Linked DNA regions of Homo sapiens: all the other regions are linked to region 3. The links come from fine-mapping of genetic effects on gene expression. A gene starts in region 3. Each other region holds a variant in brackets. All regions are shown on one strand. Distances are between the middles of the regions. Region 1 overlaps TARM1 (T cell-interacting, activating receptor on myeloid cells 1). Region 2 holds the start of LOC102724273 (a long non-coding RNA gene). Region 3 holds the start of MBOAT7 (membrane bound acylglycerophosphatidylinositol O-acyltransferase MBOAT7).

Evidence for each region.
Region 1: its variant is fine-mapped to the expression of MBOAT7 in whole blood (TOPMed, PIP 0.98).
Region 2: its variant is fine-mapped to the expression of MBOAT7 in whole blood (TOPMed, PIP 0.96).

What each region holds. Positions count from the first base shown.
Region 1 is chr19:54,069,728-54,079,326 of GRCh38, forward strand. It overlaps TARM1 (T cell-interacting, activating receptor on myeloid cells 1), which reads right to left. Exons shown (of 5, transcript NM_001135686.3): 2 at 6,156-6,191; 3 at 5,097-5,387; 4 at 4,193-4,489; 5 at 168-433. The coding sequence ends at 276. Among named protein-coding and RNA genes, the nearest start is that of TARM1, 6.8 kb to the right of the region's middle. The variant T/C (reference allele first, on the strand shown) is at 4,626.
Region 2 is chr19:54,149,955-54,159,335 of GRCh38, forward strand. It overlaps CNOT3 (CCR4-NOT transcription complex subunit 3), which reads left to right. Exons shown (of 18, transcript NM_014516.4): 14 at 2,272-2,371; 15 at 2,474-2,672; 16 at 2,913-3,045; 17 at 3,761-3,886; 18 at 5,355-5,727. The coding sequence ends at 5,453. It overlaps LENG1 (leukocyte receptor cluster member 1), which reads right to left. Exons shown (of 4, transcript NM_024316.3): 2 at 8,328-8,507; 3 at 6,809-7,071; 4 at 5,207-5,986. The coding sequence ends at 5,767. LOC102724273 (a long non-coding RNA gene) reads right to left here and starts at 2,273. Exons shown (of 4, transcript XR_001754001.3): 1 at 1,760-2,273; 2 at 3-724. RefSeq lists an enhancer at 9,100-9,381. The variant G/C (reference allele first, on the strand shown) is at 4,310.
Region 3 is chr19:54,185,639-54,194,949 of GRCh38, forward strand. It overlaps MBOAT7 (membrane bound acylglycerophosphatidylinositol O-acyltransferase MBOAT7), which reads right to left and starts at 3,942. Exons shown (of 8, transcript NM_024298.5): 1 at 3,700-3,942; 2 at 2,795-2,873; 3 at 2,579-2,708; 4 at 1,523-1,649. The coding sequence starts at 2,870. TSEN34 (tRNA splicing endonuclease subunit 34) reads left to right here and starts at 5,670. Exons shown (of 4, transcript NM_001077446.4): 1 at 5,670-5,969; 2 at 6,083-6,326; 3 at 6,478-6,735; 4 at 7,537-8,894. The coding sequence starts at 5,727. The coding sequence ends at 7,724. RefSeq lists enhancers at 3,270-3,955, 3,956-4,637, 6,606-7,122 and a silencer at 5,560-5,761.

The DNA.
Region 1 (9,599 bases), 120 kb before region 3:
AAGCTGTCTTGGTGGCGGTGGGAGTGTCTTTTAGCATGCAAATGCATTATAATTAGCAAATAATGTGCAGTGAGGACGACCAGAAGTCACTTTTGTTGCCATCTTGGATTTGGCAGGTTTTGGCTGGCTTCTTTGTTGCATCTTTGTGTCTTTGGGTCTTTGTGACCTGTATGTTGTGACCTGTCTCATCCTGTGACTTAGAAAGCCTCAACCCCCTGGGAATGCAGTCCAGCAGGTTGCAGCCTCAGTTTACCCAGCCCCGGTTCAAGATGGAGTCACTCTGGTTTGAAGGCCTCTGATTCACCTGGAGACACATTCCGGCTGTACCAGGCCTCCACCAGGAAAGCTCCCATGATAACCACAATTACGGCAGCCAGACCCAGTCGTACGAAGTTACCCAGGGAGTAGTTGCTCGATGTGGTACCTGGGGGAACTGAAAGAGAGAAGGGGCTCAGCACTGACCCTCAGAGGGTATCCCTCCTTCTCAAATGGCCCCACCAAATCTGACTATCATCACCCACTTAATGTTTTCGGTTTTTTGGTTTTTTTTTTTGAGACGGAGTTTTACTCTTGTTGACCAGGCTGGAGTGCAGTGGTGTAATCTCAGCTCACCACAACCTCTGCCTCCCAGGTTCAAGCCTCCCTGCCTCAGCCTCCCAAGTAGCTGGGATTACAGGCATGTGCCACCATGCCCGGCTAATTTTATATTTTTAGTAGAGACGGGGTTTCGCCATGTTGGCCAGGCTGGTCTTGAACTCCCGACCTCAGGTGACCCGCCCACCTCAGCCTCCCAAAGTGCTGGGATTACAGGTGTGAGCCACCGCGCCCGGCCACCCACTTAATGTTTTCTAGCCAGTAGTCCACTGTACTTTAAAGTTTTAATTGAACTTTTTTTTTTTCTTGAGATCAAGTTTTGCTCTTGTTGCCCAGACTGGAGTGTAATGGCACAATCTCAGCTCACTACAACCTCTGCCTCCCGGGTTCAAGTGATTCTCCTGTCTCAGCCTCCCAAGCAGCTGAGATTATGAGCATGTGCCACCACACCCGGCTAATTTTGTATTTTTAGTAGAGACGGGGTTTCTCCATGTTGGTCAGGCTGGTCTCGAACTCCTGACCTCAGGTGATCCACCCGCCTTGGCCTCCCAAAGTGTTGGGATTATAGGCATAAACCACCATGCCTGGCCATAATTGAGCTCTTTAAAGTTTTAATCCCTGAAAACAAAAGATGGAATCTTTGTTGTTGTTTTTGAGACGACGTCTCACTCTGTTGCTCAGGCTGGAGTGCAGCGACGCAGTCTCGGTTCACTGCAACCTCCACCTCCTGGGTTCAAGCGATTCTCCTGCCTCAGCCTCCCGAATAGCTAGGATTACAGGCACCTACCACCACACCCGGCTAATTTTTGTATTTTTAATAGAGATGGGTTTTCGCCATGTTGGCCAAACTGGTTTCGAACTCCTGGCCTCAAGTGATTCGCCTGCCTCGGCCTCCCAAGGTGCTGGGATTACAGGCCTGAGCCACCGCGCCCGGCCAAGATATGCAATCCTAATGAGTTGTAATGGGAGTTCCTTTATCTTCCTTCCTTGATATTCACTCCACCTTAGCTCTCTTCCTTCGTTTATTTGCTCTTTATCCCATTTCCACCTTCCCACATTGCCTTTTCTCCTCCCGCATCCTTATGTTAAGGAATAGTCTTGGGGCAGCACATGAGACGGAAGGAGCTCTACAGAGCCCCGAATTCCGTGGCTGGATCAGCATCCTCGCAGCACACACTGCTGTGCAGCAGTGCACCTGAGAAAGTTTGAGTTGAGGCCGGGCACAGTAGCTCACGCCTGTAATCCCAGCACTGTGGGAGGCTAAAGTGGGAGGATTGCTTGAGGCCAGGAGTTCGAGAGCAGCCTGGGCAACATGGCGAAACCCCATGTCTACTAAAAATACAAAAAAATTAGCCGGGTGTGGTGGCGGGTGCCTGTAATCCCAGCTACTCAGGAGGCTGAGGCAGGAGAATTACTTGACCTGGGCCTGGGGTTGGGGGGTGGAGGCTGCAGTGAGCTCAGATTGTGCCACTACACTCCAGCTTGGGCGACAGAGTGAGACTCCATCTCAAAGAAAACAAACAAACAAACAAAACCCTAGCCTCCAGATTTTCAGGGAGGCTGATTTGAGTAATAATAAAACTCTGATTGGCCAGGTGCAGTGGCTCATGCCTGTAATCCCAGCACTTTGGGAGGCCCAAGCGGGCAGATCACGAGGTCAGGAGTTCGAGACCAGCCTGGCCAATATGGTAAAACCCCATCTCTACTAAAAATACAAAAATTAGCCAGGCAGGGTGGCACACATATAGTCCCAGCTACTCGGGAGGCTGAGGCAGAAGAATCGTTTGAACCTGGGAGGCAGAGGTTTCATTGAGCCGAGATCGCGCCACTGCACTCCAGCCTGGGCAACAGAGCAAGACTCCGTCTCAAACAAACAAACAAACAAAAAAACTCTGGTCTCCCACTTACCTGGCTCAATGTGTATTAAACTCTTTTTTGCAATTCCTCTGTCTTGATGAATGGGCTTCATCCAGGCACCCGGCAAGAGCTGTAATGTAACTCATTACAGCAGTTACAACAGATGAAAAATAATTTACAGAGCTGAGGAAGCAGAGTGCTAGCACCCAGTAAGGCAGGAAACAAGATACTTTCAGAAGAATTCTAGCAGTCAATAAAAGACATGGGTAGACTTCGCATCCACGGCATAGAAGCAGGAGGCTGTGCAAACACCATGTTCTGAGGATGAGATAATTTTTTTTTTAAATTTGAAACTGGGTCTCACTATGTTGCCCAGGCTGGTCTCAAACTCCTGGGCTCAAGCAATTCTCCAGCCTCAGCCTCCCAAAGTGCTGGGATTACAGGCCTGAGCCACCACACATGACTGAGAAAGAATTATTGAGAGTGAAATCACTAACACCAAGAAAAAACAAAACACGCCATGCACAGTGGTTCACACCTGCAATCCCAGCCCTTTGGGAGGCCGAGGTGAGCGGATCACCTGAGGCCAGGGGTTCAAGACCAGCCTGGTCAACATGGTCAGAACCCCATCTCTACTAAAAATACAAAAATTAGCCAGGCGTGGTGGCGGGCACATGTAATCCCAGCTACTCAAGTGGCTGAGGCAGGAGAATTGCTTAAACTCGGGAGGCAGAGGTTGCAGTGAGCTGAGATCGCACCACTGCACTCCACCCTGGGCAACAGAGCGAGACTCTGTCTCAAAAACAAAATGAAACAAAACAAAACAAAAAACCAAAACGCTAAGAGATGCAAAGACTGGTAGAAGGAATCTGGTGCTGGTAGATTCATAATTTTCAAAAACAGCCTAGAAATTTTCCAAGGATGTAGTATAACAAAAAGGCAAAGGAGGGCCGGGCACGGTGGCTCACACCTGTAATCCCAGCACTTTGGGAGGCCGAGGCAGGCAGATCACCTGAGGTCAGGAGTTCAAGACCAGCCTGGTCAACACGGTGAAACCTTCATCGCTACTAAAAATAGAAAAATTAGCCGGATGGGTGGTGCAGGCCTGTAATCCTAGCTACCTGGGAGGCTGAGGCAGGAGAATCACTTGAACCTGGAAGGTGGAGGTTGCAGTGAGCGAAGATCGCGCCATTGCACTCCATCCTGGCAACAGAGTGAGACTCCATTTCAAAAAAAAAAAAAAAAAAAAAAAAGGCAAAGGAGTGGAAATTGTGAAAGGGAGGTTTTTTTGTTGTTTTGTTGTTTTTGTTTTTGTTTTTTGTTTTTTGTTTTTGAGACAGAGTCTCACTCTATTGCCCAGGCTGGAGTGCAGTGGCAAGATCTTGGCTCACTGCAACCTCCGCCTCCCATGTTCAAGCAATTCTCCTGCCTCAGCCTCCCAAGTAGCTGGGTCTACAGGTGCATGCCATCATACCTGGCTAATTTTTTATTTTTAGTAGAGACGGGGTTTCACTATGTTGGCCAGGCTGGTCTCAAATCCTTGACCTCAGATGATCCATCCACCTCGGCCTCCCAAAGTGCTGGGATGACAGGCATGAGCCACCACGCCAGGCCAGAAAGGGAAGATTTTGTTAAGAGCGATGATATTGTAAGTAATGAAGAAATGAGATTCACAGAAGAACAAAACAATCTCTGATTAAAAACAACACACACAGTTCCTCAAAACCATACACGCCCTTACCTGTCACCAATATCTCAAGCTGATCACTGGGTTCTGAGGCCCAGAAGGGAGACTTTGTCTGGTAGTACATGCAGCTGTAGTTCCCAGCATCGCCGGCTGTCACGTCCACCAGAGAGAAGTCTATCTCCTTCCCCGCTGGACTCTGCAGCTGGATGGGTGATGGCGTCCCTGCCTTCAGTAGAGCGAACATGATAGGCACAAACAATTGGTCTCGCTTCTGGCACTGCAGAGTCACCCTTCCACCTGCGGTCACTGTACCCCTTTGGTAGGTTCGGAGGAAAGGTTTAGATAAATGTCCTGTAAGAGAAGTCAGGTTCTGAGGTCCTGGGGAGAAGTCTGGAATCCCCCACTCACCCCTGTTCTCCTGGCCGGAGGCTCTCGTGGAGTGTGGGAAATGAGAGATTCCTGATCTCTTCTACCTTCCTCCACTTCC[T/C]ACTCCGACCCCAGGACAGAGATTCTCCCTCCTACAAGACCTGTGTAAGGCCTGGCATGGTGGCTCACACCTGTAATCCCAGCACTTTGGGAGGCCAAGGCGGGTGGATCACCTGAGGTCAGGAGTTCGAGACCAGCCTGCCCAACATGGCGAAACCCTGTCTCTACTAAAAATACAAAAATTAGCCGGGCATGGTGGCAGGCACCTGTAATCCCAGCTGCTCAGGAGGCTGGAGCAGGAGAATCACTTGAGCCCAGGAGGCGGAAGTTGCAGTGAGCCGAGATGGCACCACTGCACTCTGGCCTGGGCGACAAAGTATAAAACCAACATATGCAATTTCGTTCCTGTCTCTCTCCCTCTCCCACCACCCCCAACTACTCTGAAGGTGGGACCCCTTTTCTCCCTCTGTTCCTCCACTTCCTCCCTCATCCCCTGTCCCCCGTATGTCATTGGCAGGCACCCTGTCTGTACCTGTCACCAACAGTAGAAGGACGTCACTGTGCTGTGAAAGGATGTGGGGGGATGCTTTTCTGTAGTATTCACAGGTGTACTCTCCAGCATTTCTGACTTTTAGATTATTGAGGTGAAATTCGGCCGCGCCCTCTGTAGAATCAAGGGGCTTCGGGGACTCCAGAATAATTCCTCCCTTCCTGAGAACAAAGCTCACACCTCTGGCAGGAGTCCAACATCGCAGCGTCACATTGCTGTTGGCAGGGACCACCGAGCTGGGCCAGGCACTGAGGGACGGCTTGGGCAGTGACCCTGGAAGGAAGCAGAGCCTGATGCTGGACCCGATGCCCTCCCCTGCTCTCAGGAAGCCCTTTTTAAAATTTATTATTATTATTATTATTTTGAGATGGAGTCTCCCTCTGTTGCCCAGGCTAGAGTGCAGTGGTGCAATCTCAGTTCACTGCAACCTCCGTCTCCTGGGTTAAAGCAATTCTCCTGCCTCAGCCTCCCAAGTAGGTGGGATTACAGGCACGCACCACCACACCCAGCTAATTTTGTATTTTAGTAGAGACAAGGTTTCACCATGTTGGCCAGGCTGGTCTCGAACTCCTGACCTCAGGTGATCCACCCACCTTGGCCTCCCAAAGTGCTGGGATTACAGGCGTGAACCCCTGAGCCCAATCAGGAATCCCATTTTAAGAAGGGAAGCGGGCTGGGTGCGGTGGCTCACGCCTGTAATCCCAGCACCTTGGGAGGCCAAGGCAGGCAGATCACGAGGTCATGAGATCGAGACCATCCTGGCCAACATGGTGAAACTCCGTCTCTACTAAAAATACAAAAATTAGCTGGGCGTGGTGGCAAGCACCCGTAGTCCCAGCTACTTGGGAGGCTGAGACAGGAGAATCACTTGAGCCCAGGAGGCGGAGGTTGCTGTAAGCCGAGATTGCACCACCGCACTCCAGCCTGGCGAAAGAGTGAGACTCCGTCAAAAAAAAAAGAGAAAAAGAGGGGGAAGGGGAAGAGAACAGCAGGGGATTTGGGATGACAGGCCAAGGAGGGTGTAGTTGAAGAAACACTCACCATCTCCCCTTGTGTCTCCTTGGCCCACGCACAGTCCTGCAAGACAATCCTCCGTGAGCCAGAAGCCCCTACCTGGAGCCACGTCACCCCCTGCCCTGACCCCTGGAGATCGTCCCAGAGTCTCCTGCTGAGAACAGACCCTTAGAGGTCATACGCTCAGGAGTTCTCATTCTCCCCACACTGGACTGTGGCTTCTGCTCGACTTCCAGCTCCTCCATCCTTTCCCAGAGATTCTCCTTGACCATCCTGTGTGGCTGTCACCTCCCCCTGCTCCAGGCCTTTCCCACAAATCCTTCCATTCTCATCTTCTGTTTGAAAACAGCACTCATTCTTACCATTTCTTTCTTTCTTTCTTTTTCTTTCCTTTCTTTCTTTCTTTTTTCTTTCTTTCATTCATTCTTTCTTTCATTCATTCCAGAGACAGAGTCTCGCTCTTTCTTTCTTTTTCTTTCTTTCTTTCTTTCTTTCATTCATTCTTTCTTTCTTTCATTCATTCCAGAGACAGAGTTGCGCTCTGTCGCCCAGGCTGGAGTAGAGTGACGCAATCTCGGCTCACTGCAACCTCCGCCTCCCGGGTTCAAGTGATTCTCCTGCCTCAGCCTCCCAAATAGCTGGGATCACAGGCATGCGCCAGGACGCCCGGCTGAGTTTTGTATTATTAGTAGAGACAGGGTTTCACCATATTGGCCAGGCTGGTCTCGAACTCCTGACCTCAGGTGATCCACCCACCTCGGCCTCCCAAAGTGCCGGGATTACAGGCATGAGCTTTGTGCCCAGCTTCTTTTTATTTTTTAATTTTTCATTTTATTATTGTGTTTTGAGACAGGGTCTCTCTCTGTTGCCCAGGTTGGAGTGCAGTGGCTCCATCATGGCTCACTGTAGCCTCCCAGGCTCAAGTGATCCTCCCACCTCAGCCTCCCGAGTAGCTGGGATCACAGGTGTGCACCACCACACCCGGCTAATTTTTTAGTCTTTCCCAGAGACAGAGTCTCCCTATGTTGCCCAGGCTCATGATCTCTTTTAATCCCTTCATGACTCCAAACAGGACAAAATTTATTGTTTGGTGTCCTGTAACAAGCCTCAAAACATCCAAATGGTCATTCCAGAAAGGGGAAAGCATACGTTCCTCCCTGTTTCACACATGGCTGCATTTGCTCTTCCTCCTTTTTAATTTTTTTTGATAGAGACAGGGCTGGGCTGGTTAAGAACTCTTGACCATGCCGGGCGCGGTGGCTCCCGCCTGTAATCCCAGCACTTTGGGAGGCCGAGGCAGGTGGATCACGAGGTCAGGAGTTGAAGACCAGCCTGGCCAACATGGTGAAACCCCGTCTCTACTAAAAATACAAAAATTAGCCAGGTGTGGTGATGGGCGCCTGTGATCCCAGCTACTCAGGAGGCTGAGGCAGAGAATCGCTTGAACCCAGGAGGCAGAGTTTGCAATGAGCTGAGATCGCACCACTGCACTCCAGCCTGGCCACAGCGCGAGACTCAGTTTCAGGAAAGAAAAAAAAAAGAGAAAGAAAAGAAAAAACATAATATCAAGCCTGTTTATGAACATTATCATAATAATGAGATTGATCTAACTCAAAGAAAGTTAGTTAGGCCTGTGTCTCTGAGAGATTTCCTCTTTTTCCCCTGTGTGAACAGTTTTAGGTCTCAGCAGGAAAAAGGAGAAGTTACCAGGCGTTTGTGCTACTATTACATCCATGAGCCAATCCATAAACTGACACTTCAAGTTTTGCAAAAGGAAATTGTGAACACCCAAAATGTTCAAACAACGTAAGTGTCCATCCATGGAAGAATGGATAAACACAGTGTGCTCTATATATTCAATGGGATTTTTCTTCTTTTTCTTCGTTTTTTTTTTTTTTTTTTTTGAGACATAGTTTCATTCTTGTTGCCCAGGCTGGAGTGCAATGGCGCGATCTCGGCTCACTGCAACCTCCGCCTCGCGGGTTCAAGTGATTCTCCTGCCTCAGCCTCCCAAGTAGCTGGGATTACAGCTCACTGCAACCTCCGCCTTGCAGGTTCAAGTGATTCTCCTGCCTCAGCCTCCCAAGTAGCTGGGATTACAGCTCACTGCAACCTCCGCCTTGTGGGTTCAAGTGATTCTCCTGCCTCAGCCTCCCAAGTAGCTGGGATTACAGGCATGCACCACCATGCCCAGCTAATTTTGTATTTTTTAGTAGAGACAGGGTTTCACCATGTTGGTCAGGCTGGTCTTGAACTCCCCACCTCAGGTGATCCGCCCATCTTAGCCTCCAAAATGCTTTTTTCTTTTTCTTTTCTTTCTTTCTTTTTTTTTTTTTTTTTTTTTTTTTGAGGCAGGGTCTCGCTCTGCTGCCCAGGCTGGAGTGCAATGATGTGATCCTAGTTCATTCCAGCATCAACTCCCTGGGCTCAGGTGATCCTCCCACCTCTGCCTCCCGAGTAGCTGGGACTACAGCTGCACACCACCATGCCCAGCTCATTTTTGTTGTTGTTGTTGTTTTTAATATTTATTTATTTATTTTGAGATGGAGTTTCGCTCTTGTTGCCCAGACTGGAGTGCAATGGCATGATCTCGGCTCACTGCAACCTCTGACTCCTGGGTTCAAGCGATTCTCTTGCCTCAGCCTCCCAAGTAGCTGGGATTACAGGCGCCCGCCACCACGCATGGCTAATTTTTATATTTTTAGTAGAAATGGGGTTTCACCCTATTGGCCAGGCTGTTCTCGAACTCCTTACGTCAGGTCATTGCAAAAAAAGTGCTGGGATTACAGGCGTGAGCCACCATGCCCAGCCTCATTTTTGTATTTTTTGTAGAGACAGGGTTTCACCATGTTGCCCAGGCTAGTCTCGAACTCCTGGGCTCAAGCGATCTGCCTGCCTCAGACTCTCAAAGTGCTGGGATTACAGGTGTGAGACACTGTGCTCGGCCTACAGTGGGATTTTAGCCATAAAAAGGAAAGGAAATCTGACATATCCTACAATATAGATGTAGCTCGAGGATATTATGCTGAGTAAACTAAGTCAGGCAAAAAAGAACAAGTGTTATGATTCCACTCATACATCCTAGAATAAGCAAATTCATAGAGATAAAAATTAGAATGGGCTGGACACGGTGGCTCACGCCTGTAATCCCAGCACTTTGGGAGGCCGAGACAGGCAGATCACAAAGTCAGGAGATCGAGACCAGCCTGGTCAACATGGTGAAACCTTGTCTCTACTAAAAAAAAAAAAAAAAAAAAACTTAGCCAGGCATGGTGGTGAGCGCCAGTGATCCCAGCTACTCGGGAGGGAGAGGCAGGAGAATCGCTTGAACCCAGGAGGCGGAGGTTGCAGTGAGCTGAGATTAGGCCACTGTACTCCAGCCTGGGTGACGAAGCAAGACTCCATCTCCGAAAAAAAAAAAAAAAAAAGAAATTAGAATGGAGGTTACCAGGGGCTGGGAGGACCGCGGCA
Region 2 (9,381 bases), 36 kb before region 3:
ACCTCCTCTCTTGTTCCCTCCAAAGCTCTGTTTCTCTGGGTCTCTTTTCCTTTCTCTTGGTTGCACTTGTTGCTTGCTCTCTCTGGGTCTCCATCTTCATCCCCCCCGCAGGCCCTCAGTTTCTGTCCCCGTTTGTCCTCACAAGGCATAGACTGGTGTACTTTCTGCACAAGTAGAAAGACTGGTTGGGTGAATGCAGCCTGGTTCCACCCTTTAGGAAGCTTCCCTGCTGGGGCAGCTGCAGGGAAGGTTGCGGTGGGCCCACCGAGGGGCATCTGACCTGACCTGGGAGACAGGCCCAGGAAGGTCTGAGAGGGGGTGATGTTTAAGCTGAGACCTGGACCAGGCAGGGGGGCTAACAGCTGCAGGAAGGGCTTCAGGAGGTGCTTTAGGAGGAGCATGCATCTGCCTGTGTGCTTAGGAAGCTGGGCAGGATGCAGCAGAGAGGAGAGAGGTGTCCACTCTGCAGGAGACAGTGCCACCAGCTGCAGGGCTGAGATAGTGGGTGTAGCAGGATAGGACGGTGGGGTCCTGATCATCGAGGGTCAGGAGCTGGGGCTTGGCTTGTGAGCCAGTATACTGTAGCGCAGCTTCCATGGGGGGACCAGTGTGTATGCCCAGGCTGTCCAGGAGGCAGTGTGCGCGCCCAGGCTGTCCAGGAGGCAGTGTGCGCGCCCAGGCTGTCCAGGTCCAAGTCTTGGCATTGTCCTTTCTGTGCCTTCATCTGGGAAACGGCAATAGTCACGATTATACCTACTATGTAGGGTTATTTGGAAGACTAAATCATCCTCATAAAGCTCTTGGAACAGTTTCTGGCCCAACAGAAGCATTAATTTTTTTTTTTTTTCTTTTTTGAGACAGAGTCTTGCTCTGTCACCCAGGCTGGAGTGCAGTGGTGCAATCTCAGCTGAATGCAACATCCGCCTCCTGGGTTCAAGCGATTCTCCTGCCGCAGCCTACTGAGTAGCTGGGATTACAGGCGCCTGCCACCACGCCAGGCTAATTTTTATATTTTTAATAGAGATGGGGTTTTGCCATGTTGGTCAGGCAGGTCTTGAACTCCGAACCTCAGGTGATCCACCCACCTTGACCTCCCAAAGTGCTGGGATTACAGGTGTGAGCCACCGTGCCCGGCCCAAATTTTAGAAGTAGGTGGACAGGATATTTATAGTGCGTGCATTTTTCTGGAAAAAGGGAAACAGCAGCTTTGAGATTTTCAGAAGGGGTCCATATCTTTTAACACCACCAACAACAAAAATGAATCGCTGGGGTGGGTGGTCGGGAACCATGGCAAGGTTTGGAGTAGAGAAGGAACAACATGACTTCATTGGAAAGGTCCCCTGGGGCTGGTGAGGACAGGATAGAGGGAGGGTGGTCTGGGCAGGAGAGGACAGGCCTGGGCTGTGTGGGACATGGTGGCACGACAGGGAAGGGAGCCATCCAGTGGGGTTTAGAAGCAGGACGGATAGCTGGGCGTGGTGGCTCACACCTGTAATCCCAGCTCTTAGGGAGGCAGAGGCGGGAGGATAGCTTGAGCCCAGGAGTTTGAGACCTGCCTGGGCGATATAGCGAGACAGGATGGATAAGCCTTGGCGACTGACTCGTTGTGGAGAGTCCAGCACAGGGCTGGGGTTTGGGACAGCTGCACGTGGCTGGAGGAGATGGGAGGAACCAGCCCTGACTTTGGGGAACAGAAGCCTGCTGTAACCTTTGTAATAGGAAACGAGGCTGTGGCTGCGGGGCTGGAGACCCAACCTACCTGTTTCCAGCAAGGAGACTGAAGCCTAGCCGGGCTGGGCCCACCCCGATTCCAGTCACCCCATGCCAGTCACAGGCAGACAGCTGAGCATGTAGACCTCCTGCCTCCTTCAAGACAGGCGGGAGCTCTCCCAGCGTGTAGGTGTCCCTAGTGAAGGAGCGTGTACTATTGGCACATCCTTTGACAAAAATGGTAGCGCACTGTACATATTCTGCAGGTTGGCGTTTACTTCTGTAGTATGTCACGAACTTGTATTTTGAAAATCTCGGCGTAGTATTCCATGCTGCAGAGTCCCACTCACGAGACGTTCCTCTGCTGATGAATGCGTCGTGGTCTCCGATTGTTTCCCTACAGTTTGATGCTTTTACCTGTCATGGGTAGATTGTGGGGAGTGGGTCGTTGGCCCTCCACGGCCCCCAAACAGGGCAGGTGAGAGCATCTGGGGCCTGTGTCAGGCTGCACTTGCTCCTGCAGCCCAAGTGCTCAGGCCAGGCCTCTTGTTTCCTCCCCAGGCCCCTGAGCCTCTGAGCTCCTTGAAGTCCATGGCGGAACGGGCAGCCATCAGCTCTGGCATTGAGGACCCTGTGCCAACGCTGCACCTGACCGAGCGAGGTGAGGGACCCAGGATGGTGGGGAAGCAGCGGGCCAAAGAGGAGGGGCTGCCCCTGACCCATCCTCACCACTGAGGGGGCCGGACCCCCACCCTCCCCACAGACATCATCCTGAGCAGTACATCAGCACCTCCGGCCTCAGCCCAGCCGCCCCTGCAGCTGTCAGAGGTGAACATACCGCTGTCGCTGGGTGTCTGTCCACTGGGCCCTGTGCCCCTCACCAAGGAGCAGCTCTATCAGCAGGCCATGGAAGAGGCCGCCTGGCACCACATGCCTCACCCCTCTGACTCTGAGCGTATTCGGTGAGGGGCCACAGGGAAGGGGGATGGTCTGGGACTTGAGTCTTACGGAGGAGGCAGTGGCTGAACCTGTGAGGCTGTGGGTAGAGCACCAGGCCCCTGACTTGGGCTCTCCACTGAAGGTCAGCACCGCCCTGGGTCTTTCTGTACCACCTCCCCCCGCAGGGATGCATGTCTGAGCACCCTTTTGATCACGACAGGACTAGTAGGCAGCTGGCACTGACCTTCCTGTTGCTCTCACAGGCAGTACCTCCCCCGGAACCCCTGTCCGACGCCCCCCTACCACCACCAGATGCCACCCCCACACTCGGACACTGTGGAATTCTACCAGCGCCTGTCGACCGAGACACTCTTCTTCATCTTCTACTATCTGGAGGTACAGCAGGGCCCCCGGGGCAGCCTCGGGCCCCCCGGCTTCGCCGCCACCGCCGCCGTCCCCCCTCGGGCTGGAGGGGTGAGGTGGGTGCCCCACTGCGGCCACTGGGACCGCACCCCCTCCCTATTCCCACTCCTGGGCCCCTGCCCCAAATCCACCTGTCCCCGTCCCCGCCTTCCAGCCCAGAGATGTTAGAACTGCTTGGGTTGACAGCGAGGCTGGTCCACTGAGGCACACCTCAGCCCCGCTTCCAGTTGCCCACTGGCTCACCCGCGGCCCCTCCCCAGCCCTGCTCCAGCAGCCCCAGTCTAGGCCGACCCCACTCTGCTCATTGGCACATTCTCAGGCCTCCCTGGAGACCACTGGGGAGCTGTCCAGCCCCCTCCCAACCCCAGTGAGTCATGAGTGACCTCCACCCTCATCCCCACTTGGGAAATTTTCTAAATTGCCTCCTCTCTCAGCTCTCATCACACATTAGTTTTTCTTCCTTCTCAAAGCTTCTCTGAAAGCAATTTTCACCTCCTGTCTCATTTTCCTTCTCCTGATCAGCATTGGTATGTTCTGTGCCCCCAGCCCCATCTCCAAGAGGATTGTCCAGCCCAACTGTGGTCTGTGGCGGGGGCCGGGGTTCAGCCCTGATGTCCTGCCCCATTCCCCTGGCTCCCCACCCAGTTTGGGGGCCCCCTGATCCCCCTCTCCACTGTTCCTCCCCCAGGGCACTAAGGCACAGTATCTGGCAGCCAAGGCCCTAAAGAAGCAGTCATGGCGATTCCACACCAAGTACATGATGTGGTTCCAGAGGCACGAGGAGCCCAAGACCATCACTGACGAGTTTGAGCAGGTGAGGGCCCCGCCCCCTCTCTTCCCGCTGCTAGGGTTGGGGTAGAGTCCCCAGGCTCCAGGCAGCCCCTGCTGGCCTCTGCTCCCTTGCCTCCACCTTTCAGCTGGCGCAGTCCCTCAGCCTGACCAAGTACTCCTCCCTCTGGCTGTCTGCTCAGCCTGGAACACCGCCCTCTCATCCTCCACTTGGCCAGCTCCTAGGCCTCCTGTAGGTCTCAGCCCAAATGTCCCTTCCTCAAAGAAACCTTCCTGGAGCCACCCAGCCCAGTGCCTCCCCTTTGCAGTGCTGGGCACACTCGCCTGGGGTGTGGGATTTTCCCAGTATGTGTCCCTGCACCAGGCTGTGGGCTCTGCTGCCGAGGGACCTTGATGGCCCCCACTTCACCTCCAGGTCCCAGCACTCAGCAGGGCAGGGGCTCAGTGC[G/C]GAAACTATTTTTTTTGAATGGGCTTCTCAAGTTCTAATACTGGGAAATTCCTGCTGCTTGCAAACACTCTGGAACCAACCTACCTGGGTTTCAGCCCAGTCCAGCTGGGCGACTCTAGGCAAGTCACTCGAACCTCTGTGTCTCAATTAACTTATCTGTAAAAATGGGGGGAAGACCACCTACCTAATGCAGTTGTTATGAAGATTAAATGAGTTAATAACATGTAAGTACTTAATGGTGACTGCTACATAGTCAGTGTCATGGATTTTTTTTTTCAAATTACTTTCAGTTGGTGTGTTCTACAGTGATGTTTTTTTCCACCAAATACTTCCCTGATGCCGAGCCCCTTCATGGGGATGAAGTAGTACAAGGTCCTTGTCCTCAGAGAACTCAGTCCCCTCTCCTGGTTCTCCCAGGTTGCCATCTTTGAAGCACTTAAGACATTCATTTAGAACCTAGGTCCTCTCCCATTGTGTCCTCAGATGTTAACCACAGACTTCCTGTCCTTTCCTGGTTTGGCCCAAAACCATCCTCCAAGTTAGTACATTTCAGGGCATCCAGTCATTCAGAAATTCCCACACCACTTCGTCACCAATAAAATGTCCCTGCAGAGTGCTTGGATTTAGACTCTGAGACTGTTCCATTCTCTAGAACAAGGGTGACAGTACCCACTGCCTCGAGGTCTTTGTGAAGATTAAATGCTAGGCTGTGCATCCTGTACTCACGTGAGAGGTGCTCAAAAGCCACAGCCCTCGAGGAAACGAAGGCTGTGCACTCACACCTGGGGCTGGGGCCCCGTTCTGGCAGCTGGCTTCGGTGGAACCTCTGCGGCCCCCTCCGTTTCCTCCTCGCTGAAGTGGCATGATAACATTTCCTACCCAAGAAGAACCTTGTGAGGATGGATGAGAGTGTGTGCGTGCAGGGCAGCTGGCCCGGTGCCTGACACATCCACAGCCCTAAGAATTGTCCCCTTTGTCTGTTGGTCCGGCCCAGATCCCAGACCACCTCCTCGTCCACTCACTGACCGCCTTCTCCCCCGGCCAGGGCACCTACATCTACTTTGACTACGAGAAGTGGGGCCAGCGGAAGAAGGAAGGCTTCACCTTTGAGTACCGCTACCTGGAGGACCGGGACCTCCAGTGACACCGGCCCCTCCCTCTACCCACCCCCTTCCCCCGCATGCTGATCCCCCTGCCCAGGTGAGGGCCCTGCCCTGGAAGACTGGAGGGAGGCCCCAAGCCACGGGGCATCCCCCTCTCCCAGGAAGCAGGGAGGGGGCCGGGAGGTTTTCCTCTCAGCCCCACCCTGGGGGCCCGGGGGCGAGGGCTGCCCCCTCCTCCCCTCCCCAGTGAGGGACATTTTTTGGTAAACCTATTTTCATTTTGGAAAATATTTATGAATAAATAGTTTTATATGACGGCTGGCAGCAGCGGCCTCTCCTGTACCCCCTCAGGAGTCAGTGAGTAAGGTGAGGGTCCTGCTGGCGGGGGCGCCGGGCCAGCTGGGGGTTGAATTGGGAGTTGTACCGCCGCCGCCGGTCATCCGTCTCGTCTTCTTCCGGCTGACCCTCCTGTAGTGCCCGGCCTTGGACCCGGGCCAGCAGGGCCTCTGCCCGAGACCTCTCAGCTGCTTCCCTCCGCAGACGTTCAGCTCGAAGCTGGTCCAGGGATGGAGGCCTGTGGGGAGAGGAGTGAGGTCAGAAAGCTGGTAGCCCCTAGGAGGCCATTCCCCCAACCTCTCCCATAGAGGGAGCTGCCGCCTGGAAGCCCCGCTGCATCCAGCACACCCCAGCCTCAGCTCCTTAGGCCTGCTGGAAGCAGCCACTTGGTGCTGGGACGCCATGGGCACGTCTCTGGCCTTCCCTTCTGTGGGCTTTGGTCCTCCCCAGTCTTTAAAATCTGATGCTTCTCCAGGTCAAGAAAGCACACTTAGCAGCCCCCTGGCCCTCAGTTTCCCTTTCTAGAGGAAAGAAGACTACAGGCAGTGTACCCCCTCTAGACCAGGGGTGCAGCATCCTGGAGACAGAAGCCTGCTTTTACTCTCTAACCCAGCAGCTCTCAAACTCTTTGGTCTCAGGACCCCTTTATACTCTTAAAAACCAAGGACCCCAAGAGCTTTTGTTTAAATGGGTTCTCTTAATATGCTGCAAATCATTAGTGAAAACTAAGAAAGTTTGGACACAAGCATCTGCCATTGGCCATCAGAGTGAGGGTGTCTCCCCATCACACAGCCTCTGGAAACCTGCACTACATGCCTGAGAACACGAGTGGAAAAGTCCACCAGTGTCAGGAAAATAGGCTTGACACCACAGCACCCCGGGAAAGGGTGTCAGGACCCCTAGGGCTCCCTGGACCACATGCTGAGAACCACTTCTCCACCTAGCCAGCCCTTCACGGAGTCCCTGGCTGTCCTGACCAGAGACGCTGCAGTGCCCATGCTGGGCTGCTGCCAAGCCCTGAAGGTCTGGGCCCTGGTCTGCCGAGGTGGGGTCTTCTTACTCCTTGGGTCGCTGCTTCTCAGACCCCTCCTTTTCCTTTCTGCTGCGACTGCCTTCATCACCGCCGTGCTGTCTCTTCTTCCCCAGATGCTTCTGCATCTCCCGCAGAGGGTCCAGACGGCTCTTGATCTTCTCATCTGGGGCTGGGCCGGGCGGGGGGCCCCCTCGCCCTGGGGGTAGCTGGTACCAAGGGGGTTGAGTCTGTGCCTCCGCTGCACTCTGGCCCAGGTATGTCAGGATGCCCAGAGCTTTCTCTTGCCTCTCCTGAGGGGGCCAGGAAATACAAGAGATGTGATATAATCTTTCAAGGTGTCAGGTGTGTCTCCCTGACACAGGTATCTAAGCGAACAGGTATCTAAGGCTTGTTATGAACCAGTTGGACCAGGTGCTGGGGATGGAAGACAAACAGAGGCAAAGCTCCCCCTGGGGGGACAGTAGCAGGTACAGTAACAGCAGGGGAAGGAGGGGACAAGTGGAGCCACTTGAGTGTTCAGAGGCAGGCATCTTTGCAGAGAGACTTGAAGAGAAGCCTGAAGGGATCAAGCAAAGCAGAGGAGCGATGGGTGGGGTCAGCAAGTCCAGAGACAGCAGATAAATGACAAGAGCTGATGTACCTCTTTTTTTTGAGATGGAGTCTCGCTCTGTTGCCCAGACTCGAGTGCAGTGGCACGATCTCGGCTCACTGCAACCTCTGCTTCCCAGGTTCAAGCAATCCTCCTACCTCAGCCCCCCGAGTAGCTGGGATTACAGGCACACACCACCATGCCCAGCTAATTTTTGTATTTTTAGTAGAGACGGGGTTTTGCCATGTTTGGCCAGGCTGGTCTTGAACTTCTGACCTCAGGTGATCCACCCACGTTGGCCTCCCAAAGTGCTGGGATTACAGGCGTGAGCCACCATGCACAGCCACTGATGTACCTTTTACACTTGATCTTAGCCAAAAAGCAAGAGGCGATTGATTCACTTTTTGTTTGATTGTTTTGAGATGGGGTCTCGCTCTGTCACCCAGGCTGGAGTGCAGTGGCGCAATCTCGGCTTACTGCAGCTTCCACCTCCTGGGTCAAGCGATTCTCCTGCTTCAGCCTCCCTGGGATTACAGGCGCGCACCACCATGCCCGGCTAATTTTTTTTGTATTTTTAGAGATACCATGTTGACCAGGCTGGTCTTGAACTCCTGACCTCAGGTGATCCACCCGCCTCAGCCTCCCAAGGTGGTGGGATTACAGGCGTGAGCCACAGCCGGCTGATTTAAATTTTTAAAAGCCCATCAGGTTTGAGACTCCTCCAGTTTGGAGAACTGAGCGGTTTGCCCAGCAGCTGGGGACCTCTAGCATCTACCTCCAACCCCTGTGGGCGCCCAGACGGCAATAGCCAACGCTTTTTGAGTGTCATGCCTTGGTATGGTCCTAAATTCTGTGTGTTCACTCTTGTTTGACCTTGGTCACAACCAATGGCTAAAGTGCCCCCTCCCTCCAACTCGATTCATGGCCCCTCTGATGAAGTGGGTGAGGCCAGCTTACTTTCTCCTGTCGCTTTTCTTCCTTGTACTCTTTATTGCCTCTGATCACTCCTTTCCCTTCCTCCAGCAGCTCCCGAAACAGGTCCACAGGGCCAGAACCTGGGGCTCCCGCCTCTGCTGCTTCAAGCTCAGGCAGTGAGTTCTGATGTCTGGCTTTCTTCCGTAGGAATTCTGTACGGGCCTGGGGAGAAAGTTATAGGCAGGACATTCAGAACCTAGAGGTAATTCAAGAACTGTGAGTCTGGTGCCCACCACAGAAAATGGCAGTCCAGGGTGCTGGGGTTATGAGAAAGGGAGCACTAGGCGCCTAAAAGAGGCACCTGTCCTAGCTGGGGGTGAGGGTAGGCAGATGAGGCAACGCCTGGGTTTTGTAAACTCCCTTTCAAATAGTAAACCACGGGTCATCAAGGATGTATGGGAGGAGGTCCCTGGCCTAAACCAAAGGGGTTCCTAACCTCAAGTGAGACAATTAAAACAGCCATAAAGGTATGCATTAGGCCAGACGATCTGAATTCTAGCCATGGCTCCAAGTGACTACCCCAAGTCTGCTGAAGCCCTGTCCCCTGCCTTCAGGACGCGGATTTCAAACAGCGCTCAGCAGCCTACTGAGATTCTAAAAACCTAGACTACCTCCCACCCACGGCGGAGGATCAGACTAGCTAAGGAAATGAAAGTTGGGTGTACACCAAACAGATTTAAAGAGCCATACGGAAAGCCCGTGTTTGTGTGTATGTGTCTAGGGGGCGGTGCACGAAAGGGCTCGCCCGATGGCGTGGAGCCTGGCTGTCCGCCTCTCCTTAAAATGTGCCTTCCCCTCACTGAAGCCATCTCACTTCGTGCAACAGAGATGACAGTGCCCCTCTAAGAACGAACAGTGCTTATTGGGGATTCCGCAAGTCAGGTGCACGGCATGTAGTTAGCATACAGTAGATGCTCAATAAATAGGCTGTGCAGGCAAACTAAAAAGTGATCCGAATTTCCTTGAACTGTCCAAGGGTTCACGGATTCATTAAATGTTAAGCTTCTCTTTTGTGCTAGACACTGTTCCAGCCATG
Region 3 (9,311 bases):
CTTGCCCTGTTCCACTTCAATTCTCCTTCAGCATCCAGAACGAGTTTTCTTTCTTTTCTTTTCTTTTTTTTTTGAGATGGAATCTTGCCCGGGAAGGCCCAGGCTGGAGTGCAATGGCGGGATCTTGGCTCACTGCAACCTCCACCTTCCAGGTTCAAGCAATTATCCTGCCTCAGCCTCCTGAGTAGCTGGGATTACAGGTGTGAGCCACCACACCCGGCTCATTTTTGTATTTTTAGTAGAGACGGAGTTTTACCATGTTGGCCAGGATGGTCTCAAACTCCTAACCTCAGGTGATCTACCCGCGTCAGCCTCCCAAAGTGCTGGGATTACAGGCGTGAGCCACCCGCAGCTGGCCTAGAATGAGTATTTCTATTTGTTTATTTATTTTTGAGATGGAGTTTTGCTCTTGTTGCCCAGGCTGGAGTGCAATGGTACGATCTCAGCTCACCACAACCTCCGCCTCCTGGGTTCAAGCAATTCTCCTGCCTCAGCCTCCCGAGTAGCTGGGATTACAGGTATGTGCCACCACGCCCAGCTAATCTTTTGTATTTTTAGTAGAGACAGGGTTTCTCCATTTTGGTCAGGCTGGTCTTGAACTCCCGACCTCAGGTGATCCGCCTGCCTCAGCCTCCCAAAGTGCTGGCATTACAGGCGTGAGCTACTGTGCCCAGCCAGAACGAGTATTTTTAAACATTTAAAACTGGTCACATTGCCTCTTCTGGCAGCAAACCAAAAATCCCCTCTTCCAGCAGATCTCAATCCTCCACGGGAAGAAGTCCAATGTCCTCACGGTCTCCAGCCAGGCCTAGCACGGTGTCAGCCCTGCTGCCTGTTCCCTTTTGCTCGTCCCAGAAAGTGGATGTGGCTGGTGTAGCCTGTGGAACCCAGCCTGCTCCCCTCCACACATCCTGCGGCCTGAAATGCTCCTCCACGAACCCCTCTCTCATCCAACCTACTCCTGCCACCACTGAGCTCCCACAGGGCACACTGAATGCTGGGAAGGCCACTCCCTACCTAGCATGACTGCTGTGTTCACGGATAAGCCGCCAGTAGGAAACCATGACTCTGTGGGTCTGGGGTGGGCCCTAGGATTCTGTTTTTACCCCTCTTCCCAGGTGATTAGGAGCCAGACCTGGATGCCCTAGTTTTGTTCCCTTCACCAAGTACCTTCTCCCCAGAGCTGGTTTTTCTCCTTTGCAAAATAGCTGGCTACAGAGATTCAAGGACAGCATGTTGGTAAACCACCCAGCTGGGCCTCTGGCACACCGCAAGCACCCAATGGCACCTACTGTTACCCTATGTGGGTTATTTCCTCACCCCAGGAGGAGCTGGGAGGTGAAGACCTGCCCAAGGGCATGTGAATGGGGAATGCTGTGCCCAGGGCAGCAAGTGAGGTGACGTCCCACCCCCAGGGTGTGTTGGAGGTAAAATCCCGGGGAGCCACTGAAGGGGGAGGTAAAGTGGGAGGTGAAGGGGCCCACAGGGAGGCTGGAGGGGAGTGGCAAGCCCCGAGTCTGACCTTCAGCGTCAGCAGCAGCTGGACGGCATTGGTGAAGGGCGTGGGAGTGGGCAGGCCCAGGAGGCTGAGGGCTCGGAAGAACAGGAGATAGGAGAAAGTCCAGGCCAGAGCCAGGGCGTGGCAGGAGCTGGGCAAAAGCAGGAGGCGCACTGTGTTGGGCACAGAAGTCTCGGCCTTGGCCACTCACTCCACGAGTCCAGCCACCAATCCTCCCCCAGCTCTCCCCATTCGTTTAGAGACAGAAACACAGAAGGGCAGAGAGGACAGGAGGGTGGATGTAGGGACCGAATGAGTATGATTGAAACAGTGGGAGAAGAGGCTCAGCCACATAGAAACACACACCAACAGAGAATGAGGTTAAGAGAAGCTTCGGGTGAAGACCCTGCAATCCTCCACTTTTTCTTTATTTCCGAGGTCCAGGGCTCAAGAAGAGAGAGGTGGATATGAATGAATATGAACGGTGGCCAGGCCAGCAGACACACTGTCCACCTCTCTCCATGACATGGATGTAGCGGACTGGGACAAACACACAGGGACCAGACGCAGAAGGCAGGGGAGAAAGAAAAGCAGATGAAGGCCGGATGCGGTGGCTCACGCCTGTAATCCCAGCACTTTGGAAGGCTGAGGTGGGCAGATCACAAGGTCAGGAGTTCGAGATCAGCCTGACCAACATGGAGAAACCCCAGCTCTATTAAAAATTCAAGATTAGCCAGGCATGGTGGAGCATGCCTGTAATCCCAGCTACTTGGGAGGCTGAGGCAAGAGAATCGCTTGAACCCGGGAGGTGGAGGTTGCAGTGAGCCAAGATCGTGCCACTGAACTGCAGCCTGGGCAACAGGAGCGAAACTCCATCTCAGAAAGAAAGAAAGAAAGAAAGAAAGAAAGAAAGAAAGAAAGAAAGAAAGAAAGACAAACAAACAAACATGAAACAGAGAAATGAGCTGATCAACAAGAGACAGCTAGACATGAGGCAGAAGCTGAAAAAGACTCAAAGAGGAAACAGGTTGCTTCCCCCTCTCCCCTCCTCTCCCTCTCCTCCCTCCACCAAATTCTCACCAGGGCTGGGCCTGAATGAGGGCCCAGGTCCCGAGGATGGTGACCAGAGAATGCAAAGTGTGGGGGCCACAGGTGAACAGGGTGAGCCCCAGGCCCACAGCGGCTGCTCCCCATCTCTTCAGCCCAGGACCTGCAGGGGGAAGGGACAGCATAAGCCTGGAACCTTCCAGAGGGTCCCCCCCCTTTATTTTCCACTGGGGAGGGAGCCTGACTCACCGGCTTTCTTAAAGAGGAAGCCGATGGGGATGGAGATAAGAAGAACCACTAGATACGTCCATTCTTCAGGCGACATGGTCTGGGGGAGGGGCAGAGATTCACAGTGAGAACCCAGGAATCCAGGCCCCCTGCCTCCTCCCTCTTCGAGGATCCAGGAACCCAGCCTTCTAGACCCCAGTTTTTGAGGATGATGGAGTATGAGCCTCAGCTCCTCTCCTTTGAGAACCTAGCAACCCAGACTCCAGCCCCTTCCTCCTTGGAGGAGACAGGAATCCACCCCCAGCCCCTCCTTTGAGCGCACAGGCCTCCAGCTCTCCTGTCCTTGGAGAACCCAGGAAAGTGTGGGGATCTCCCAGCACCCAAGCCCCTCCTTTGCGAACGCAGAAATCAAAGCTACTCCCCGCACCCATACTGGGGACCCAGATTTGAAGACGCCCCTCTTTTAAAAACCCAGAAACGGCACCCCTCCCGGACCCTTCCTCTTCGACAGCCCAGGAATCTAGACCTCCGAGCCCCCTCTTCCAGCGAGGATCCAGGAACCCAGACCCCCTCTTTGGATCCCCCATCCCCCGGCCCTTGTGAAACCAGATATCCGGACCCCCCAGCCCTTCTCCTTCGAGACCACCCAGAGGAGCCCGGGTCTCCAACCTGCACCTCCTTCGGAGCTCCACACCCCTCTCCTACTGAGAACCCGGGGATCGAACACCCTCCCCTCCCCAGGCCCAGGCCCAGGCCCAGCCCCAACCCGTCCCGCGCACCCCAGCGCATCCCCGGCAGAGCCACAGGCGGTTGCGCCAGCCCCGAGTTCCAACGCGCCTCCGGGGCCGCCCCGCACCCGCCAGCCCGCAGAGACCCTGCCGCCGTGTAACCTCGCCTCGCCACTGGGCGCCGCCACCCTGGCCCACCTGAGCTGCTCGCCGGGCAGGAGGCGGCCGAGCAGTCCCAGCCCGCTTGCCGCCGCAGCTCCGGCCACGCCTCCCCCGCCCAGCGCGCCCCCGCGCCGCCTGCTCCTTCTGGGCGCCCGCCGGGCTGCGCAGATCAGGCCGGGGAAGAAGCCACGGTCAGGGCCCCGGGCGGGCAGGGAAGAAGCCCCGGAGCAGAAGCCGAGAGCGCGAGTCGGCAACGGGATTCGAGTCCAGGTCCACACTGGGATCCGAGCTCCGAGTACGTGAAGGGGCGGGCCTTCGGGCTCGGAACAAGGAGGAGCCAAAAGCTTTGGACCCGAAGGGGAACAGACGGGCTCTGGAAAGGAGGCGGGGTCTGGAGCTCGGCGTGAGGAATGAGGCGGGGTCTCCCTTCGGGTTCCTTCGGGCACAATCGGGAGCTTGAGTTCTCCGGAAGCGGGGCCACAAACTTCGGCTCACTTCGGCAATAGTCGAGAACGGAGAGCTGAGGCCACTGTGGGCGGAGCCACATGTTTCGGCTTTCTTCGGAGGTAGTCGAGTCCTTAGGGTCACTGTTCCGATGTGGGCGGGGCCACAGACTCGGCCGGATGTGGGTGGGGCCACAAGCTTCGGTTTACTTCGTAGATAGTTGGGTACAAGTGACGCTAGGATGATAGGCGGAGTCAACAGGTTCGCCAGACACCCATGAGTATTTACAAGGGGGCGGGGCGAAAGCGACTTGCCCTCAAAGGGGCGGAACCCCGAGGGCCGGCGTGCGCCTACGGGACCGGGCCAGGATGACGATCCTCAAGTTCCCAAGTAGAGGAGAGGAAGCGGCAGAGGGAGGTGCGCTCAGTGGGGCGGAGCCAAGGTGGCCCCCGCGGGAGGAGGGCGGGGCTTCGGTCCTGCGAGGGGCGGGACCTGACTTCCCGCGGCGCTGATGGGGCGGGATGACGAAGTTGACGAGGGTGTCGGCATGAGGGGGTGGAGCAAGGAGCGCGTGGCGCGGTGCGCAGTGGGTGGCTCCACCTCGACTGCGAATTACTGTTTATGAGGTGACTCGCTGGTTCTATCGGTGGACAGTGGGACATTCTGAAGGGAGGCAAGGAGGCGGACTGAGCGCTCCCAATTGGGGTGAGCCCGCCCGAGCGGAGAGTGGACGGCGGGTGTCCAGGGGGCGGGGCTTTCGGCTGTGGGGTTCGGTCGTAGGGCGGGAACTCCCCAACTGGGGTGCGCTGGCGCTCGGAGGGGGCGGGGCCACAGGCCGCGAGGCTGCCGGGAGCCGATGACGCCCGAACGCCGAACCTATTGCGTCCGGGAGGAGGCGGGGCTACGGATTCGGCCGAGCCGAGAACACCCGAACGTCAAATTGCTGGCGTTCGAGAAGGGGGCGGGGCTGCGGATTCGGTGGAGCCGAGGACGCCCGAACGCCGAACTTCCTGTGCTCGGGAGGGGGCAGGGTTTTGTACTGTGGGAGTCTGAGAGCGAGGAGGTCCGAAAGCCGAATCACAGTCGTTCGGAAAGAGGAGGAGCGAAGGCTCGAGCGTCCGGAAGAGGGTGTGGCCTCGGCGGTGCCTTAGCCTCCAGAGCTTCTGACCGCTGACGGGAACACCCGAAGGGGGACGCCCACTTTGCAAGAGGGTGGTGCCAAAATGGACCTTTGTAAGGGGGCGTGTCGCCGCGCTTGCGGAGGTTTGTTTTTCACGCTCCAAGGCGCAATGGTAGGTACGGCAGTGCGGGCACAGAGCGGGTGCCGACCGCAGGGTCACAAGGGTAGAGCGGGACCCTGGGGGCTTGGCGAGGGGAGAGGGTCGGGGGCTTGTCTCCGGCGTCTCGTCTCCGGCGGCCGCGAGGCCTGGTGGGATCGCCCGGGGGCGGGGCCTGGCGCTCGGGCCCAGCAGGTGGTGAACGGCGGCTGAGCGAGGCCCCGCCCCCTGAGGCCTAGGGGCGGGGCTTCGCCGAGACCCCGGAGGCTTTGGGTGCGCTGCAGCGGTCCGCGGCGCGCAGCTGTTTCGGTAACTGCTTTGCCTCCCGGCTCCCGCAGGAGGATGCTGGTGGTGGAGGTGGCGAACGGCCGCTCCCTGGTGTGGGGAGCCGAGGCGGTGCAGGCCCTCCGGGAGCGCCTGGGTGTGGGGGGCCGCACGGTAGGCGCCCTGCCCCGCGGGCCCCGCCAGAACTCGCGCCTGGGCCTCCCGCTGCTGCTGATGCCCGAAGAGGCGCGGCTCTTGGCCGAGATCGGCGCCGTGACTCTGGTCAGCGCCCCGCGTCCAGACTCTCGGCACCACAGCCTGGTAAGGGGGCGGGGCTCGAACTCGGGTTCGGTGGGAGCGGGACCTGGGAGTCAAGTTTCCTGGCTTCTGAAGGGACCATAAGCTTGGAGGTTCCAGCGAAGTGTGCTTCTCAGGCCCTGACATCCTTCAAGCGCCAGCAAGAGGAGAGCTTCCAGGAGCAGAGCGCCTTGGCAGCTGAGGCCCGGGAGACCCGTCGTCAGGAGCTCCTGGAGAAGATTACGGAGGGCCAGGCTGCTAAGAAGCAGAAACTAGAACAGGCTTCAGGGGCCAGCTCAAGCCAGGAGGCCGGCTCGAGCCAGGCTGCCAAAGAGGATGAGACCAGTGATGGCCAGGCTTCGGGAGAGCAGGAGGAAGCTGGTGAGCATGGGAGGTGGAGTCCAGGGACCACGGGAAGGAGAGGAGAGATCTTTTAGGAATTTTAGCTGGGAATCCAGTGCCTGGGTCTCCCTGAGGGTGAGAAGACTTTACCCCTTGAATTTACCAAACTCTTCTCTGTACTCCCCACCAGGCCCCTCGTCTTCCCAAGCAGGACCCTCAAATGGGGTAGCCCCCTTGCCCAGATCTGCTCTCCTTGTCCAGCTGGCCACTGCCAGGCCTCGACCGGTCAAGGCCAGGCCCCTGGACTGGCGTGTCCAGTCTAAAGACTGGCCCCACGCCGGCCGCCCTGCCCACGAGCTGCGCTACAGTATCTACAGAGACCTGTGGGAGCGAGGCTTCTTCCTCAGTGCGGCTGGCAAGTTCGGAGGTGACTTCCTGGTCTATCCTGGTGAGTATGGGTTGGGGCCTCTGGTTGCTGTGCCTTTCCATACGATCCCAATGTATTCTGCGTTTTTCTTTTTTTTTTTTTTTGTCTTAATAGAGGTGGGGTCTCTTGTTGCTTAGGCTGGTCCCTATTCCTGGGCTCAAGCAATCCTTCCACCTCGGCCCCCCAAAGTGCTGGAATTATAGGCCCAGCTGCATTTTTCTTTTTTGTCTCACTTTCTCTTAGCCTCTGAAATTCATAGACAGACAGGAAACATTTGGGAGCTCCCGAACTCATTGGGCAAGCAGTTTAACGACTTTTATTAAATGATTACTGTGATCCAGAAGATTCACTTAGAAGTAGTTAGACATCAGGCTGGGCGCAATGGCTCACGCCTGTAATCCCAACACTTTGGGAGGCCAAGACAGGTGGATCACCTGAGGTCAGGAGTTTGATACCAGTCTGGCCAACATGGTGAAACCCCATCTCTACTAAAAATACTAAAACTAACTGGGCGTGGTGGTGGGTGCCTGTATTTCCAGCTACTCGGGAGGCTGAAGCAGGAGAATCATGTGAACCCAGGGGGCAGAGGTTGTAGTGAGCCAAGATCGTGCCATTGCACTCCAGCCTGGGGGACAAGAGCGAGACTTTGTCTCAAAAAAAAAAAAAAAGCCTAGAAGTGGAATAGTTGTGTCCAAGAGCATCTGTTTTAGAGTATCTATAGTGATGGCTGAAATGATCTCAGATCTCCTCCCAGTGGTCGTTCCCGTGGCGTCCAGCCGTCTGCCATTGGTCACTGCTTCAGTGCCTCTCTCCTTCCCCCAGGTGACCCCCTCCGCTTCCACGCCCATTATATCGCTCAGTGCTGGGCCCCTGAGGACACCATCCCACTCCAAGACCTGGTTGCTGCTGGGCGCCTTGGAACCAGCGTCAGAAAGACCCTGCTCCTCTGTTCTCCGCAGCCTGATGGTAAGGTGGTCTACACCTCCCTGCAATGGGCCAGCCTGCAGTGAACTCCAGAGACCTAGGGGATGTGGCTGTGTCGGCAGCAAGAGCCTTTCTGGATGTTCCCCAGCTCTTCTCTGGGAGTCTAGAACATCCTCCTACCTTTCTCCGCGGTTAGTTTTTGATTCCAGGTTTTCGAACACTACATCTTTTTTATGTTCTTCCTTGTTTCAAAGCACTTATTGGCTGTGTTTTTGTAGTTACCTATTTTCACACTGTGAGCTTCCCGAGAATGGGGCCTGGGTTTGATTCATCTGTTTTCTACAGGGTTTAAGTCTCAGGAGGTCTCAATAAACTTGGTATATAAATGTTCATGATTTGAATGTTTGCGACAGTCCTGGAACCCGTGGATGGTCTCATCTGCATGTACAGGTGAGAAAAAGGCCTGGAGGAGGGGGACTGACTTGCCCAAAGTCACACACTTAGTAAATAGCAGGCCTGGCCTTTCAAAATTGGTTTTTCTGACTCCTAAATCTGCACTCTTTCTACCTCACTAAACTTCCTTTTGAAAAGATTTCTATGAAATTTCCCAGATGCATACAAACGTTATAAATAAAAATATAGGCTGGGCACGATGACCCACACCTGTAATCCCACAGAACTTTTGGAGGCCAAGGCAGGGGGATCGCTTGAGCCCAGGAGTTTGAGACCAGCTCTGGCAACATTGTAATACCCAGTCTCTACAAAAAATAATTTAAAAAAAAATTAGCCAGGGATCCCTTGAGCCTGGGAAGTTGAGGCTGCTGTGAGCTGTGATTGCACCACTGCCCTCCAGCCTGGGAGACAGAGCAAGAACCTGTCTCAAAAAATATATATATGTGTGTGTGTATATATGTAAATATACACACATGTATGTATATATATGTGTGTGTATATATATATATATTATGAAAGGAAATGAGTATTGTAATTTTAGGAGTTCAGAGCCTGGGGAGAAAGGAAGGACTCTGGAAGGCGTTCTGCTTTTTCATGGCCTGGGTAGTGGTGAATTTTTTTGATACTGTATATTTATATTTTAGACTCTTTTTTGGATGTGTTATATTCTGCAATTTTTATAAAAGCTAAAACACATGTATTTGTAAAAAATTTGCACTTATGAAATCATTTACCCATGTTTTTGCTTAAGAAAGTACTAGAACACTACCACTATTCCAATAATTACACCTTTATCTTATCAATGTGCAGTTTTATTTTGTCACGTTTATTTTGTCAGTGTAATACATTCACATGGTGAGTCTGGGCGTGGTGGCTTATGCTTGTAATCCCAGCACTTTGGGAGACCAAGGCGGGCGGATCATGAGGTCAGGAGTTCCAGAGCATCCTGGCCAACATGGCCCGCCTCTATGAAAAATACAAAAATTAGCCGGGCGTGGTGGCGGGCGCCTGTAATCCTAGCTACTCCGGAGGCTGAGGCAGGAGAATCACTTGAATCTGGGAGGTGGAGGTTGCAGTGAGCCAAGGTCACGCCACTGCACTCCAGTCTGGGCGACAGAGCTAGACACTGTCTCAAAAAAACAAAAACAAACAAAAACTTCCACATGGTAAAATTCTGGGGCTGAAAGTCTCCACCTCTAGTTCTTCCATTTCTTCCCCCC